4 linked regions of the Homo sapiens genome follow. The protein of the gene in region 1 purifies or fractionates together with the protein of each later gene. This does not show direct contact. Each region holds a gene or a part of one and is shown in the gene's direction. Other genes may lie near its edges. The genes, in order: PLEKHG4B, GINS2, SRRM1 and CSTA.

The links.
Region 2: the proteins of PLEKHG4B (region 1) and GINS2 purify together in Homo sapiens (affinity purification with mass spectrometry; one large-scale study listed by BioGRID and IntAct). This does not show direct contact.
Region 3: the proteins of PLEKHG4B (region 1) and SRRM1 purify together in Homo sapiens (affinity purification with mass spectrometry; one large-scale study listed by BioGRID and IntAct). This does not show direct contact.
Region 4: the proteins of PLEKHG4B (region 1) and CSTA purify together in Homo sapiens (affinity purification with mass spectrometry; one large-scale study listed by BioGRID and IntAct). This does not show direct contact.

The regions. Positions count from the first base shown.
Region 1 is NC_000005.10:158,083-161,674, forward strand, and holds part of PLEKHG4B (pleckstrin homology domain-containing family G member 4B), read left to right. Parts: intron 1-3,592. UniProt on the Homo sapiens protein: Guanine nucleotide exchange factor (GEF) which specifically activates small GTPase CDC42 by exchanging bound GDP for free GTP.
Region 2 is NC_000016.10:85,678,955-85,682,454, reverse strand, and holds part of GINS2 (DNA replication complex GINS protein PSF2), read left to right. Parts: intron 1-773; coding exon 774-873; intron 874-3,500. UniProt on the Homo sapiens protein: Required for correct functioning of the GINS complex, a complex that plays an essential role in the initiation of DNA replication, and progression of DNA replication forks.
Region 3 is NC_000001.11:24,646,288-24,649,879, forward strand, and holds part of SRRM1 (serine/arginine repetitive matrix protein 1), read left to right. Parts: intron 1-379; coding exon 380-502; exon of another isoform or gene 503-2,571; coding exon 2,572-2,742; intron 2,743-3,592. UniProt on the Homo sapiens protein: Part of pre- and post-splicing multiprotein mRNP complexes. As a component of the minor spliceosome, involved in the splicing of U12-type introns in pre-mRNAs. Involved in numerous pre-mRNA processing events.
Region 4 is NC_000003.12:122,335,239-122,338,830, forward strand, and holds part of CSTA (cystatin-A), read left to right. Parts: intron 1-2,308; coding exon 2,309-2,410; intron 2,411-3,592. UniProt on the Homo sapiens protein: This is an intracellular thiol proteinase inhibitor. Has an important role in desmosome-mediated cell-cell adhesion in the lower levels of the epidermis.

The DNA.
Region 1 (3,592 bases):
GGCCAAGCTGCAGCCACCAGCCAGTCCGGGCTGTCTCCAGTCTGTGCCCTCTGTCCTGGGGGTCTCCTCCATCTCCCCTCCTCCCTCTGCTCTATCCTGGCTCCATCTCCCCTCCTCCCCCTGCCCATCCTGGGGGTCTCCCCCATCTTCCCCTCCTCCCCCTGCCCATCCTGGGGGTCTCCTCCATCTCCTCTCCTCCCTCTGCCCATCCTGGGGGTCTCCTCCATCTCCTCTCCTCCCTCTGCCCATCCTGGGGGTCTCCTCCATCTCCTGTCCTCCCTCTGCCCATCCTGGGGGTCTCCTCCATCTCCTCTCCTCTCTCTGCCCATCCTGGGGGTCTCCTCCTTCTCCTCTCCTCCCTCTGCCCGTCCTGGGAGTCTCCCCCATCTCTCCTCCCACTGCCTATTCTGGGGGTCTCCCCTATCTCCCCTCCTCCCTCTGCCCATCCCAGGGGGTCTCCCCCATCTCCCCCTCCTCCCTCTGCCCGTCCTGGGAGTCTCCTTCATCTTCCCCTCCTCGTTCTACTCCGTCCTTGGGGGGGTCTCCCCCATCTCCCCTCCTCCCTCTGCCCATCCTGGGGGATCTCCCCCATCTCCCCTTCCTCCCTCTGCCTGTCCTGGGGGGTCTCCTTCGTCTTCCCTTCCTCGTTCTACTCCTTCCTGGGGTGTCTCCCCCATCTCCCCTCCTCCCTCTGCTCTTCCTGGGGTCTCCTCCATCTCCCTCCCCACTCTGCCCCATCCTGTGGTCTCCTATTTCCTGTATCCAAGTCTTCCTCTTTTTTCATTTACTTTGGCGTTTTATGCAGAATAACTTCCAGGACTTCCCAGAGAAAGGGATCTTGGGGTGAGCATTTTTGAGGCCGTGGTATCTAAAAGCATCTCTACTCCACCTTCATGGCCAGCAGTCACTTTAGTTTCCCTTCGCCAGCTGGAAGGCCCTGCGCCTGTGCTTAGCTTCCATCCCACTCCCAGCCTTCTGCCTGTGCCCTGCTTCTCGGTGGAAGCCACAGACTTTCCTGTCGTCCTCGGGGCTCTGGAATCTGAGGGTTGCCCAGGTGCGCTGAGGGCAGGTGTGCCCGAGGGTCACCCAGGTGCACTGAGAGCAGGTGTGCCTGAGGGTGGCCCAGGTGTGCCTGAGGGTCGCCCAGGTGCACTGAGGGCAGGTGTGCCTGAGGGTCGCCCAGGTGCACTGAGGGCAGGTGTGCCTGAGGGTCGCCCAGGTGCACCGAGGGCAGGTGTGCTCTTTGTGTCTGCACTGCGCCCCTCTGTTCTGGGAATTCTGTGACATCCTTCGTGGCGCTCGCATTTCCCACAGCTCCACACTTCCATCTGGTTCTGGAGTTTTCTGTCCTGTTGCCTTAATTTTCCCCACCCCTGGCTGTGTGCTGTCCTTGTAAGGTAGATTTTTCTCAGCTTTACCCTCTAACTCTATTATTGAGTTTTTTGTTTCTGCTCTTGCTTTTTAACTCCATGGGCTTATTTTCTGAACAGTCCCCTCTCCATACTAATCATGATGAGTCTGCACAGTCTGTGGCTTCTGTGGGTTTGTTCTGGCGCCAGAGGCTTTCCTGGCGACCCCTGGCTAGGAAGCCTGTGGCCCACGCATCTTTAGCATTTTCTCCCTGGCGGTCTGATTCTTTTCCTCTAATCCCGGCCTGAAAGGAGAGCCTGGCCGTAGCTCAGTGTTCACCTGCCAGGGAACAGACCCTGGGCCCTGTGGAGCAGGGTGCCCAGCTCCTTCCCTCCGACACTCCCTCACCCTGTCCTGTGGAGTCTCGGGACTTGGCCTCTGCTCTCCTCAGGCCCTGCCACTCCCGCTTCCTTCCCGGCCTCCAGGTTTGTGCCCTGGCTGCTCTCTGCCCACCGTGCTGAGTGTTACGCCTTGGAAGATGCTTGCAGGGCTTTAGTGGTGTCTCAAGAGGACACGTCTCACTCTGCAGTCTTCACCCAGAAACTCCACGTTGTGACCGGACAGGCGATCCTGCTATGTATAGGTGCACGTCTGTCTCTATATATTTAACCTAAAAAGTGCATGCACACTGTGGGAAAATTAGAAACAAATAGATTTTTACACACGGGATGCCGCATGTGGCGGCCTCGGCACCCTGTGTGTGGGCATGCGCTGCAAGCTCAGTCCCCGAGCCATGTTCACACGGCTCCCACACTGAAGGCCCTGGGCTCCTCCCCTCTCTGCTGTTAGAAACTCCCCATGTTGAACATCTCTGTGTCTCTGCTTCCTTCACAGCCTGTGGGTGTTGACTCTGGATACATTCCTAGGCTCGGATGGCTGCGGTCAGACCATTTGTTTTTGGAGGTTTCCACGCATAAGCCGTGGCACTCCAGCCGCACCTGCCTCCCGCCGGCTGCCCCGTGGGGAAATGGAGCCCCTAAACAGTGTGCCCTCAGATTTTCTATGCGACAGCTGGACATTCTCTTCACACGTTTATTATTTTTATTTCTGTAGTGAATTACTTGTTCATGCTTTAGACAGTTTTTCTAGGGTTGATCATCACTTCTGTCTATGTTATATGGATCCTTCATGTTCTGCTTGTTTTCCTAGTTTGTCATTTGCCCTCTAGCTTTGCTTATCTTTTAAACAGCCCTTTCTACCTTAAGTTATAGAATTATTAGTGTATTTCATCATAGAACCTTTATGACTTGAATTTTTGTATTTAAATCTTGAAACCAATGACAGCCGATTTTTCCACAAAGTTGGAGGCCAGGCTCCAGCTCTGCGCCACCCCCACTCTGCTCTGCCGAAGCCGCACCTGCCCCTTGCCTGGCAGTTGCAAGACTCTGCCCGTGCTCCTAAGAATCAAGATGCTGTGATTTTCTTCTTGACTCTGGCTCTGTTTACAGACAGCGTATGTGCTGGTCTGTCTCTCCTCTGCTGCATGTCTGGGGTCATTCGGTACCTTCTGATGGTCATGGATCCAGGCAGCTGTTCTCTTCTTCACAACAGGCCTCTCATCTCTGGGCATCTGACCCCTAGTCGCCCCTGGTGTTGCTGTTTAACGACAACATGAAGGGCTTACCTCTGACATTTCCACTGAATCCAGCAGTAAATGCCTCCAAAATAAGAACCTTGGTCTTGTCACCAGGGCGCGTAGCCACAGGCGCTCCGTCCAGCAGGGCTCAGCCAGGGGCTCCCCCATCTTTCCCAGGCAGCCTCAAGGGGCCAAGCAGCCACTGGCCTGAAGAATATTTCTGGAATATGCTTACCATATTAACCAGTTTCAAAATGGAAAGTCCTGGATCTATTGTTCAATGATTTTAATGTCCTTTTCCAAACAATGAAAATAGTTTGGAGCTTGAGCCTCAGAGGCCCGTGCCACCTCTCATCAGTCGTGTTCATTCACGGGTGGTTACGCAGCCAGGCTGTCAGCCCTGTGCAGCGTGTACTCAGGACATGACCAAGACGCATCCCTCCCTCGGTCCTGCTAAATCCTAGAGTGTGACTTCTTCGCATGTTTAAATATAAAATGTTCTTCCCCTGTGTAGATCAAATCATAGTTTGGAAAAGAACTAGAGAAATGCCTCGGTCCTTTGGTGCCTGCTCTCGAGAATGAGAGGCAGCAGCAGGCAGCACTGTG
Region 2 (3,500 bases), on another chromosome or scaffold:
AACCCCCCTAGGATATTGTATCGCGCCCAGGCTGGGGTGGCTCTAGTTTTGTAAGTTGTCTTGCTCCCTTCTGAACAAGGCTTAGTATAAATAAATTTAAGTCACTGACTAGTTTGATCACTTATTGCATCAAAGGTCTAATACTGACCAGGTGACTCACTCCTATAATCCCAGCACTTCGAGAAGCTGAGGCAGGGCGATCACTTGAGCACAGGAGTTTGAGACCAGCCTGGGCAACATAGTGAGACCTTGTCTCTACAAAAAATAAATGGTGGCATGTGCCTGTGATCTCAGCTACTCCTTGGGAGGCTGAGGCGGGAGGATTGCTTGAGCCCAGGAGGTTGAAGCTGCAGTGAGCTGTGATGGTGCCACTGCACTCCAGTCTGGGCATGAGAGAGACCCTCTCAAAAAAAAAAAAAAAAAAAAAAAAAAAGGCGGTAAAGGTAAATCACTTTGCTGTTTCCCTAAAAAAGAAAAAAAACAAAAGCAAAACACAACAAACATCAAACTTTTGACTCTAACATTGTTTTTAGGAATATCTTCTGCAGGCTAAAGCAGCGACAAAAATTTACCTTTCTTTTGGAGAGAAAGTTTCAAGGAGGAGGCCTCAAATCATCTAGATAATGATACAAATGTCATCCCAAAATGTTTTTTCATGTATTTGCTAGTTGATAATGTATTTGCCAGATAATATAGGCACTTGGTAAATTTGGAAGGTTTAATAAATATCTTGGTTATAATGATGGTAAAATGTATTAACTTCTAAATTTCAGAAAAGTTGGAGAAGATGAGGGATCATGAACGAAAGGAAGAAACTTTTACCCCAATGCCCAGCCCTTACTACATGGAACTTACGAAGCTCCTGTTAAATCAGTAAGTAGATCTCACCTCTTAGAGGCCACACCCAAGACTGGACTCGCCATGCCCTTCCCCTAACCCTCGTCCTTCCTCTCCGCTTCCCTGCTTATTGCCTCAGTAAGTGGCAACACTGGCCGCCCTGTTTCTCAGGTCAGTGACCATGAGGTCATCTGTGTACACACACCTGCCAGGTGCACTCTGTCTGTCTCTGTGTGTCTTTCTGTCTGTTCTTTGCCTTTCTCTGTCTCTCATTTTTCCTTTTCTCCACTTCCCGGTGAAGCCCTTGGCTCTTTTTGTTCTGCCTCACATCACTCGACATTGGACCCCAGTGTGAGCCACCAGCATCTCACAGAATCGGCAGTAGCCATTCTTTGCCATGTATGTGTTTTATTTAGCACAGCTTTACTCCTGTTTCTCCTTGGAGTAGGTGGATTTGAGTTTTTTTGTGTCTTTCGCAGGAAAGGCCAGAGGGCTTACATTTGCCTCTGTCCTTGGGTTACAGGAAAGCCCACTTCCTGGCAAAATCATGCTGTAGTAACTCCGTAGCTTGTTTGCCTTCATCCATACTGGCTCCGCTCAGCTTTCCATTCATTCTTCACATCTCAGCCAGAGGGGCCTTTGAAAGGCAGAACTGCCATGTGACTCCCTGCTTAAAATCCTGTCTTCCCTCTCGTCTACCTGAGCGTGGTGTTCAAGCAGTGTACAGCCTAGTGCGTGCTCCTCCTCCCTCTTTCACCCTCTCTACAGCTCTTTTCTCTGCTTCTGGAGGGCTCAGGCTCACACTGGCCCCTGTCACTTCTTCAAGCATTCTGACTTTGCATATACTGTTCTCTGCCCTGTAAGTCTGTCCTTTCCCTGCCCCTGCTCACCTCTGCTGGTTAGCATAACATGTCTCTTCTGGGTTCAGCACACATGTACTCTTGGCAGCTCTACACATTGCTATGGCATTTGCCAGTTGTAATTTTCTTGTTTGCCTGGCTGTGCCATCACATGTACCCATTCTAAATGGGCAGGGGCTGGGTCTCGTATGCATATGTCCCCAGTGAGATGCCTGCGGCTCATGTTTGTTGAGTGAAAGTGAAACTAGTGAAGAAGGCAGACAAGGGTGGATAATTTTGCTTGGGAGATACTTAGAATGTCATTTGTACAATTTCAAGCTTCTGAAGCTCCCCGGGTATCCTTTAACTGGGTTCAAGAGCAGAACTAGAATAAAAAATTGTGACACTAGTACTACTGCATGCTGCAGAGCAGCAGGAAGGGCTGGGAGCCCACTGAATGGCGCTGCTGAATTTAAAGGAAAAGTTGGGGACACAACATGGGCTTGTGCTTAGGCTGAGATGAGGCTGCAGTCAGCCCATGAATTTCATAAAAAGCTGAGAAGCAGCAATGCACCAAGCATTCCACTCGGCAGTGGCGTTTGTCCCATAGGCCTGCTTCCTGGTGTGGTGCGGGAGAGATGTGGGCCTGGGAGCCTATAGTGAATCTTCAGTGTGACCAATGCTCTTGACAGTCCATCAGAGCGCAGTAAGGCCAGGTGGTGCCAGAGAGGGCTCACAGAGGTTTGCTGGGAGTGCAGACTTGTAGGAGGTGGACGGTAGGGGAGAGGGCAGTGAGGCAGGAACTGATATGCTCAGGCAGAGTGTGAAGGACCTGGTGTAGCCGGGCAAGCAGAGATATTTGAGGATGTGTAGTACATTCATGGGAGCAGAGGAATGGAGGCATAGGTTCTGCTGCAGTGGCCAGCCCCTGGGAGGGGCATGTGGCCTCAGAGGGACCTGAGAGAGACTGTAGTGGTGGTGGGGATGGTAGCTGGAAGGGAGAGGATCTATAAACAGGCTAGGTAAGAATTTGGCATTAGCTAGGTGAGGGGGCCTATCCATTTTTTGTTTTTGAAGTTCAATATATTATGGATGTAGTTTTTATCAAAAACCTTGTTTTATAATTCATTCGGTTAAGGGACTTAATTTTACGTTTGTTCTATAGTTCAGCTGACGAGGAGTTGGGGTCCTTTGTCCTTTAACCTGCTGTTGAGAGCACAAGATCTAAATGTTTGGGTTTATAAATAAAACTCACTACATAAATTTTGTACCAGTGGTTTGCCACTTACTCATCAGGAATTAATTGTAGCATATGGAGAGAATGTCTAGCGTAACCTGTAATGCCTAGTGACGAACAATATTTGCTTCTGCTTTTATCGTGTAGTTTTTCTTCAAAGGTTAGTTTAAAATACTTCACAACGGGAGCCTCGACTTTGTGAAAGCCTTCCTTCATCCCTTGCTGGCTTTGAGCTTCTAGCCAGAATTTTGCTATGTGTAGGTGTGCTCACTGTATACTAATTTGCAGTTTCTTCTGTGATTTTTGAAACTTGTTTTTGTCTTCTCTGAAGAGCAGGAGAGTCCCTTCCCTTCAGGGCTTTTGTGAGGATAGAAATGCCAGGTAAAGTGCTGAGCCCAGTACCTGGCATGGAGTTGGCGTTTTCCTTCTCTAGGCTGTGAGCCCTGGATTCCTGGTGGGGAATAGGGAGATCTGCTCAACACTCTGTAAATGAGGAGCAATAGAACTCGACCTTTGAGCCAGCCCTCGAAACTGATTCCTTGTAGATGGAGGTTAGGCAGCACGGAATGCTGTTATCCTGAGACAGA
Region 3 (3,592 bases), on another chromosome or scaffold:
GAGGCCGAGGCGGGCAAATCACAATGTCAGGAGATTGAGACCATCCTGGCTAACACGGTGAAACCCTGTCTCTACTAAAAATACAAAAAATTAGCCGGGCGTGGTGGCGGGTGCCTGTAATCCCAGCTAATTGGGAGGCTGAGGCAGGAGAATGGCACGAACCTGGGAGGCGGAGCTTGCAGTGAGCTGAGCACCACTGCACTCCAGCCTGGGCAAGAGTGCAAGACTCTGTCTCAAAAAAAAAAAAAAAAAATTAGCAGATTCTACTATGCCAAACAAAAAAACTAAGCTAAAAGGAACTTTGGTAGACAGAACTCTAACTTGAGCATTTTTTTTTAGGATTGTGAAGTTGTACTTAATTGTTTCTATGTTTCATCAGGTGGACATGAGCAAAGTAAATTTGGAGGTTATAAAGCCTTGGATAACAAAAAGAGTAACGGAAATCCTTGGGTTTGAAGATGATGTTGTGATTGAGTTTATATTCAACCAGCTGGAAGTGAAGGTACTAATATACAAATGGCTCTTGTTTCTGAATATGTGATATAATTTGTGAATCTTTGGAAACTGAATTTTTTCTATGGAGTGCAAATATAGAAGGGTTATTTTACAATGTTTGTTGTGAAAAGAATTCACTTTGTAAACAACTATTAAGGCTGGAAGTTTAGTGAAGGTGCATAGTTTTGAAAGCTACACAGGTGAAAAATCAAACTTATTGTTTGTAATTTTGCTGTTACATGTTAAGTTACTTTGACAGCAATTTTCTAATGATAATGTGATTTATGATTTAAAAGGCCTGAACCAAAATGGAAGTTATTCCTTGCGTCTGAAGTATAGCACCATCACCTTATTAGGTCACAGCAGAGTGAGTGTCCCAATGTCGCTCTGACCCAACTCCCTTGATGATGCAGTGTGTGTTTGGAGGTGAGTTGTGTAAAGTGGCCAAACATCAACAACAACAACAAAAAACACAAACAGGAAAGAGCAATTGGGTAAAGCTGTACACTGCTCTTTTAAAATACTATTATGAGATGGACATTTATGTGAAGCATGAGGGGCAATTCTGATTTGATTGGATATTGTTTTTAAAGGAACTAAGGTCTTTGTAGCTGCATGTCAGCTAGTCATCAGTTACATTTTAGAGACAGGATTTTTGTTTATACTTAAACTTCAGACAAATTGGCAGCATATAATTGTTCCTTTATACATGAGATAATATGATGATATAACTGATGTTTAAGAACATTCTTATTGTAAGACAGTTTCTGTTTTGCCACAGCAACCCAAAGGACAGTTAAGATATGTACCATATGACCTTTTTGCATATATACCAATGTGAATTTACTTTTACATTAATCATTTCCCCCAAAGAGTTCACCCTATGTTTTGACAGAACAGTTGGCATTTCAACTGATAAGGTATTTCTAGTTTTAAAATAATTTGGTGTTTGTATTTTGTTTTGAATATTTTTAAAGACTAATTTTAAGAATGCACTTTCTATAAAGTATATGCATCTTAGAAAACCAGGAACAGGGGAGAAAGTTTTTTAAATGATGATTGAAGATAGATTTTATTGGAGAAATGCTTTACTGATGTGTATTTTAGTGCATTTTAAAAACCTAAGTATCTGGTAGTATTCCCCTTGTAGTGAGCATGAGATTAAAGTTTAGAACTTTTTAAGACAATTCTTTTTTTGTGGTTGTGTACTCATTATTGCTTGTTCGTCTTTTGCAATTTAGATAAATGATATAACATTAAACTCAAGGTGGTTGAGTTGCAGTAGGGAGTCGGAAGCAAGCCAAGGGAACATCTTTCTCTACAGGGGACTTGGCGATTCCAAACCCCCAAGGTTCCAAGAAGAAACTGAAGACACCTGGAATCTGTACTTGCTTTGTGCTATTGAGCTGTGCTTGTTATACAGACCTTGTTGCTTGACCAACGGATTTAGCATTTAAAAACCCAATTATTTTTGAGAAATCTTGACCTCTTAGCACTTTGTGGACAGTTGAGAATTTGAGGCATTGTTATAATAGATTTTCCTTATATAAAACTCAGGCCTTTAGCTTAGCCCTCAGAAGTTACAGACTGCATGCATAACTTGTTAGTTTTCATAACTGGACAATAGATATTTTATGCAAAGCTATCTGTAGTGTTAGGGAGCAGTTTATGTACTTTTTCCGTTTCTCATTGGGGGAAAATTTCCAGGCAAGCAAATACTTTTCTTGTTAGTAAATACTAGAATTTGTGGATGTTTCATGATGGTTTTTAAAGTTAATAAATGTAAGGCCCACTAACAGCCACAGAGTCTAAAAATACTTACGAAATCCACAAAGGATTAACAGGCTGCTCTGATGCTTTTGGTAGAGTGAGAGAGAATTTGGTAATCTGTTAGAGATTATATTGCTGAGAAGCTACTAGGGAAGACTATTTGTAAAATAGTAAGGACTATATATATGTCTAAGCCCCTATGGTAGACTTAAAAAATACTAATTTAAATGAGTTTTAGGTTGGTTGATTTGTTGGTTGGTTGGTTTTGAAGTAACCTGTTTTTCTTCCTGTCGTGTCTTTTTGCAGAATCCAGACTCCAAAATGATGCAAATCAACCTGACTGGATTTTTGAATGGAAAAAATGCTCGAGAATTTATGGGAGAACTGTGGCCCCTGCTGCTAAGTGCACAAGAAAACATCGCGGGAATCCCTTCTGCTTTCCTAGAACTGAAGAAAGAAGAAATAAAACAAAGACAGGTAATAACCTTTTCTTTTCTGTAATGTCGATTTGAGAGTATTGGCCAGGCTGCCGAGACACCTTAGGTAGTATATGACTCAGCTAGGATCTTCATGTAGTTTTGCTTTGCTGTACTGTATTTAAACATTCAGTTTTGGTTCACTGCTCCTCCCTCCAACCAAACATTGAGTTTAGAATGTCATTTTCCCAGTCTAGTGATTTGCTAGATTTTTACAAATTCTTAATATGTGAGTGCATGTAGCTTAAAAGAAATTTGAATTTAACACTGAAAGGTAAGCATAAGGATTTTTGGTTTGTTGTTTTTTTGAGACACAGTTTCAGTCTGTCACCCAGGCTAGAGTGCAGTGGTGTGGTCTCTGCTCACTGCAGCTTTCACCTCCTGAGTTCAAGCGATTCTCATGCCTCAGTCTCCTGAGTAGCTGGGATTACAGGCGCACACCACCACATCCAACTCATTTTTGTATTTTTAGTACAGACGGGATTTTGCCATGTTGGCCAGACTTGTCTCGAACTCCTGACCTCAAGTGATCTGCCCGCCCTTGGCGGGATTATAGACGTGAGCCACCGTGCCCAGCCAGCATAAACTCTTAATATGGGCAATACAGATGAACTCCCAGAAAGAATAAGGTCAATGTGAAAGTGATTTTCTTTTTTATTTTATTTTTTATTTTTATTTTTATTTTTTTGAAGTAAGCTTGAAAACATCTCTTTAGTTCAGGTCTTAGAGATTAACTTTCAGTGAATATTTATTTGTAAATGAGTGGCGATAATACCAGTCTTAATGCGTATCTGTAGTGTAGGTGAAGAAAGAACAGGTCTGGTTCAAAAGAAGAGGCCGATGAAATGATA
Region 4 (3,592 bases), on another chromosome or scaffold:
TCCAAAGATGTCCATGTCCTAATCCCTGGAACCTGTGACTAGGTTCCTTTACACAGCAAAAGAGACTTTGCAGGTGTGATTAAGTTAAGGCTCTGGAGATGGAGAGGTTATCCTGGATTATCCAGGTAAGCCCATGCAATCACAGGGTCTTTATAAGAATTATACCCAAATACTGCACTCTAGTTAGTATATTGTTTTCCACAGGGGTATAGGTCAACAATTCTGAAATTATTTTATGTATATGCTAGAACTGAGAAAATAGGCGAATACATTGCAAATAATAAGAACCAGGATTCTTCCTCAGTGTTTGAGAAAGGAGTTATAATAAGGAAAAGGGAAAAGCTAAATGAGTCCTGTGGTATTTGATTTATTTTATTATTTATTTATTTATTTATTTATTTATGTATTTTGAGGCAGAGTTTCACTCTTGTTGCCCAGGCTGGAGTGCAATGGTGTGATCTCGGCTCACTGCAACCTCCGCCTCCCAGGTTCAAGCAATTCTCCTGCCTCAGCCTCCTGAGTAGCTGGAATTACAGACACCCACCATTGCGCCCAGCTAATTTTTGTATTTTTAGTAGAGACGGGGTTTCATCATGTTGGTCACACTGGTCTCAAACTCCTGACCTCAAGTGATCCACCCGCCTCTGCCTCCCAAAGTGCTGGGATTACAGGCATGAGCCACCACACCCGGCCGTGGTATTTGATTTTAATCAGAGGAATACACACACACACACACACACACACACACACACACACACGTACACACACATATATAATGTATATATATAATGACACACAGATAAATGTGTGTATATATGCACACACATACACAAATGCGTAAAGATGTGTGCATGTGTGAGTACACATATTATTTTGTAGCCCTTTCCACTGAGTGGGCCTAGAAGCAATGACATTTAGTAACAAGAGACACAGCACCCAAATCTTGGGTCTTAAATACCGTTCTCCAATAAAAGGAGCAGGGACTCCTTGGAGAAATAGTTGATTCCAGTGAGGAGGCAAGGAAACTTCAAGATAAACCTGGAACATCTGACTCTACTTTTGTAGAGTCAGAAAGTAAGGAAGTGCTTATAAAATGATGGAGGCATGTTGAAAGAACACAGGCATCAGGTGAAGGAGCTCCCAACGGCCAAATCTAGGGCATTTGAGTAACAAAATAGAGTAATGAATTGTAATCCACAGAGTAAAAGAAATATCCATGAGTCATATTAATATAAAATAAGTAATTGACTACATAAAGAGGAGAGAGGGAACAGCTCTTCCTTATGGCAGAATTCCAGATAATAAATGCACAAGAAATGATTTTTTAATTACCATTTGGCCAACACCACAATTAATCATTGTTGTAGGCAAGAACCATCAATGGATGCTAAAATTCATGTATGAAAGTATGGCGAGAAACAAGACTCCTCACAAGACACTTACTAATTACAAAGGGGAAAAAAATGGTAACTTTACCGTGGAGAAACCTGGCAGACATCCTAAGTGATCAAAATTAACATCACCAGTAATGAAACGTAGCTCCTGATAGGATGCACTTAAGCACAACATCACGTTTGTGCTATCCTTACAAACATGTATAATACTAACATAAGAGGAGATCACACAAACCTAAATTGAGAGACATTCTACCATTTAACAGGCCAGTATTCTTCAAAAACATCAAGGCCATGAACAAAAAGGAATGAACCCAGATTGTAGGAGACTGAGGAGAAATGACAACTAAATGCAATGTAGGATCCTGCATGAGATCCTGGAGCAGAAAAGAGACATTTTCAGGAAAACTGGCAAAATTCTGATAAGGTTTAGAGACTACTTAATAGTATTATACCATGTTAATTTCCTCATTTTGGTGATTATACTATGTTATGTAAAACGGCAAAATTAAGGGAACTGTAAATGATATAAGAGAATTCATTATACTAATTTTACAACTTTTAAGTCTGAAATCATTTTAAAATAATGTTTTAATCAAGTAGTAATTATTGCTCCACTGATTTTTATTAATCAAAGATACATATAACTCTTAGAGTTTTAGCAGTCAAAACGCTCCTATATTGCATTACCACACTGAGTTGATGTGAATTCAGCCTAAAGCAACAAAATTTGACTTTTTAACCTATGTAATTGTATTAAAACAGGTGTTTTCTATTGAAATAATAAAAATAGTTCATAGATTTCATTACCATCTTTGAAGACTTTTAGGAGGATGAGGTTCCCAGATGGGTACATTGCATACATGGAGTCTAATATAGCTTTGATTATTTGTTTCCTCTTTTCTTTTCTTTAGGTTAAACCACAGCTTGAAGAAAAAACAAATGAGACTTACGGAAAATTGGAAGCTGTGCAGTATAAAACTCAAGTTGTTGCTGGAACAAATTACTACATTAAGGTTAGAGTTCAGCACCTACTTTAGCGCCAAAAGATGTATTTCTCATTTTATGTAAAATATTCCCTGATTTCCCTACCACATAATTCCTTCCTTACGGTTGTCCTAAATTAAGATGCCCAGCATGATTCCTTCCAAGTGGTGGACTCTCAAATTTGGTAGATGATGTGACACCATTTTTTTTCTTGTGAATTCAGAAAGTTTTATTACATTGATTCTTGATTTCTGGAAATTGTATAGAAAAAGATTTCATAACAGTTCAGGGCATGCTGGATTTGTGGCTGTGCTGCTGCTTAGGTAAGGAGGGAGGATCACGTCTCATCTGCCTGAAGGTGTGGGGCTGGACCACATGGTATCTTGAAGCTGATTCTACCTCAAAGCTGTATGATTCTCTATGTCTAAATTAAATAAATTAAAGTAACGACTCAAATCATTAGCTGGGAAAATAATTTAAACCTTTTTTGCCCTTCAATTAATATAATGTAAATACTATTTTGTAACTCAAATTAGATTTAACTTGTGGCACTCTAGGCATAGTTTAAAAGAGTGGAGTATTTAAAATAGTTTAAAAGTTAATTTTATAGCTCTGTCAAAAAATTACACAATGCATTGATCGAGTTCTAATTGAAGTTATCAAGAGGAAACCAGTTGAACAAGTCAACCATGAATATTTGAGAGCCATGTTTGTCCTTATATATTAAGAAGATGATAATGCTGATTTTAAAAATAAAAACAAATATTCAAGTATATTTACTTAATCTTTACTTCACTATTTGACCAGGGCACAGTGTGGCTTATTTCTCTTTAACAAATATTTCTATTAAAATATAAACATTTTAAAAGATTTTTTCAGCAAAAAAAAAAAAAAAAGTAAGTGAAGTAAGTGGAGCTAGTCAGCTCAGCATAAGAAAGTTTCAGTACAGAGCTATGTACACAGATCAGCCCTGTTCTGCCAAATGTGAGCTCCTAGTAACGACCAGGTCCCGGGGAGACACATGTGAAAGAGGACCCTGCTGTATCCTCAGAAAACAATGGCACCATTTCCTCCATTCTCAATCTGCTTTCTTCATGGCTGGAAAAGAAAGTTTTCCAGTTAAAAATGATTATGTGCAAAGATAGGAAACATTCCATCAACATTAACATATTTAATAATTTATGATTAATTCAAATGCATAAATTTCACAT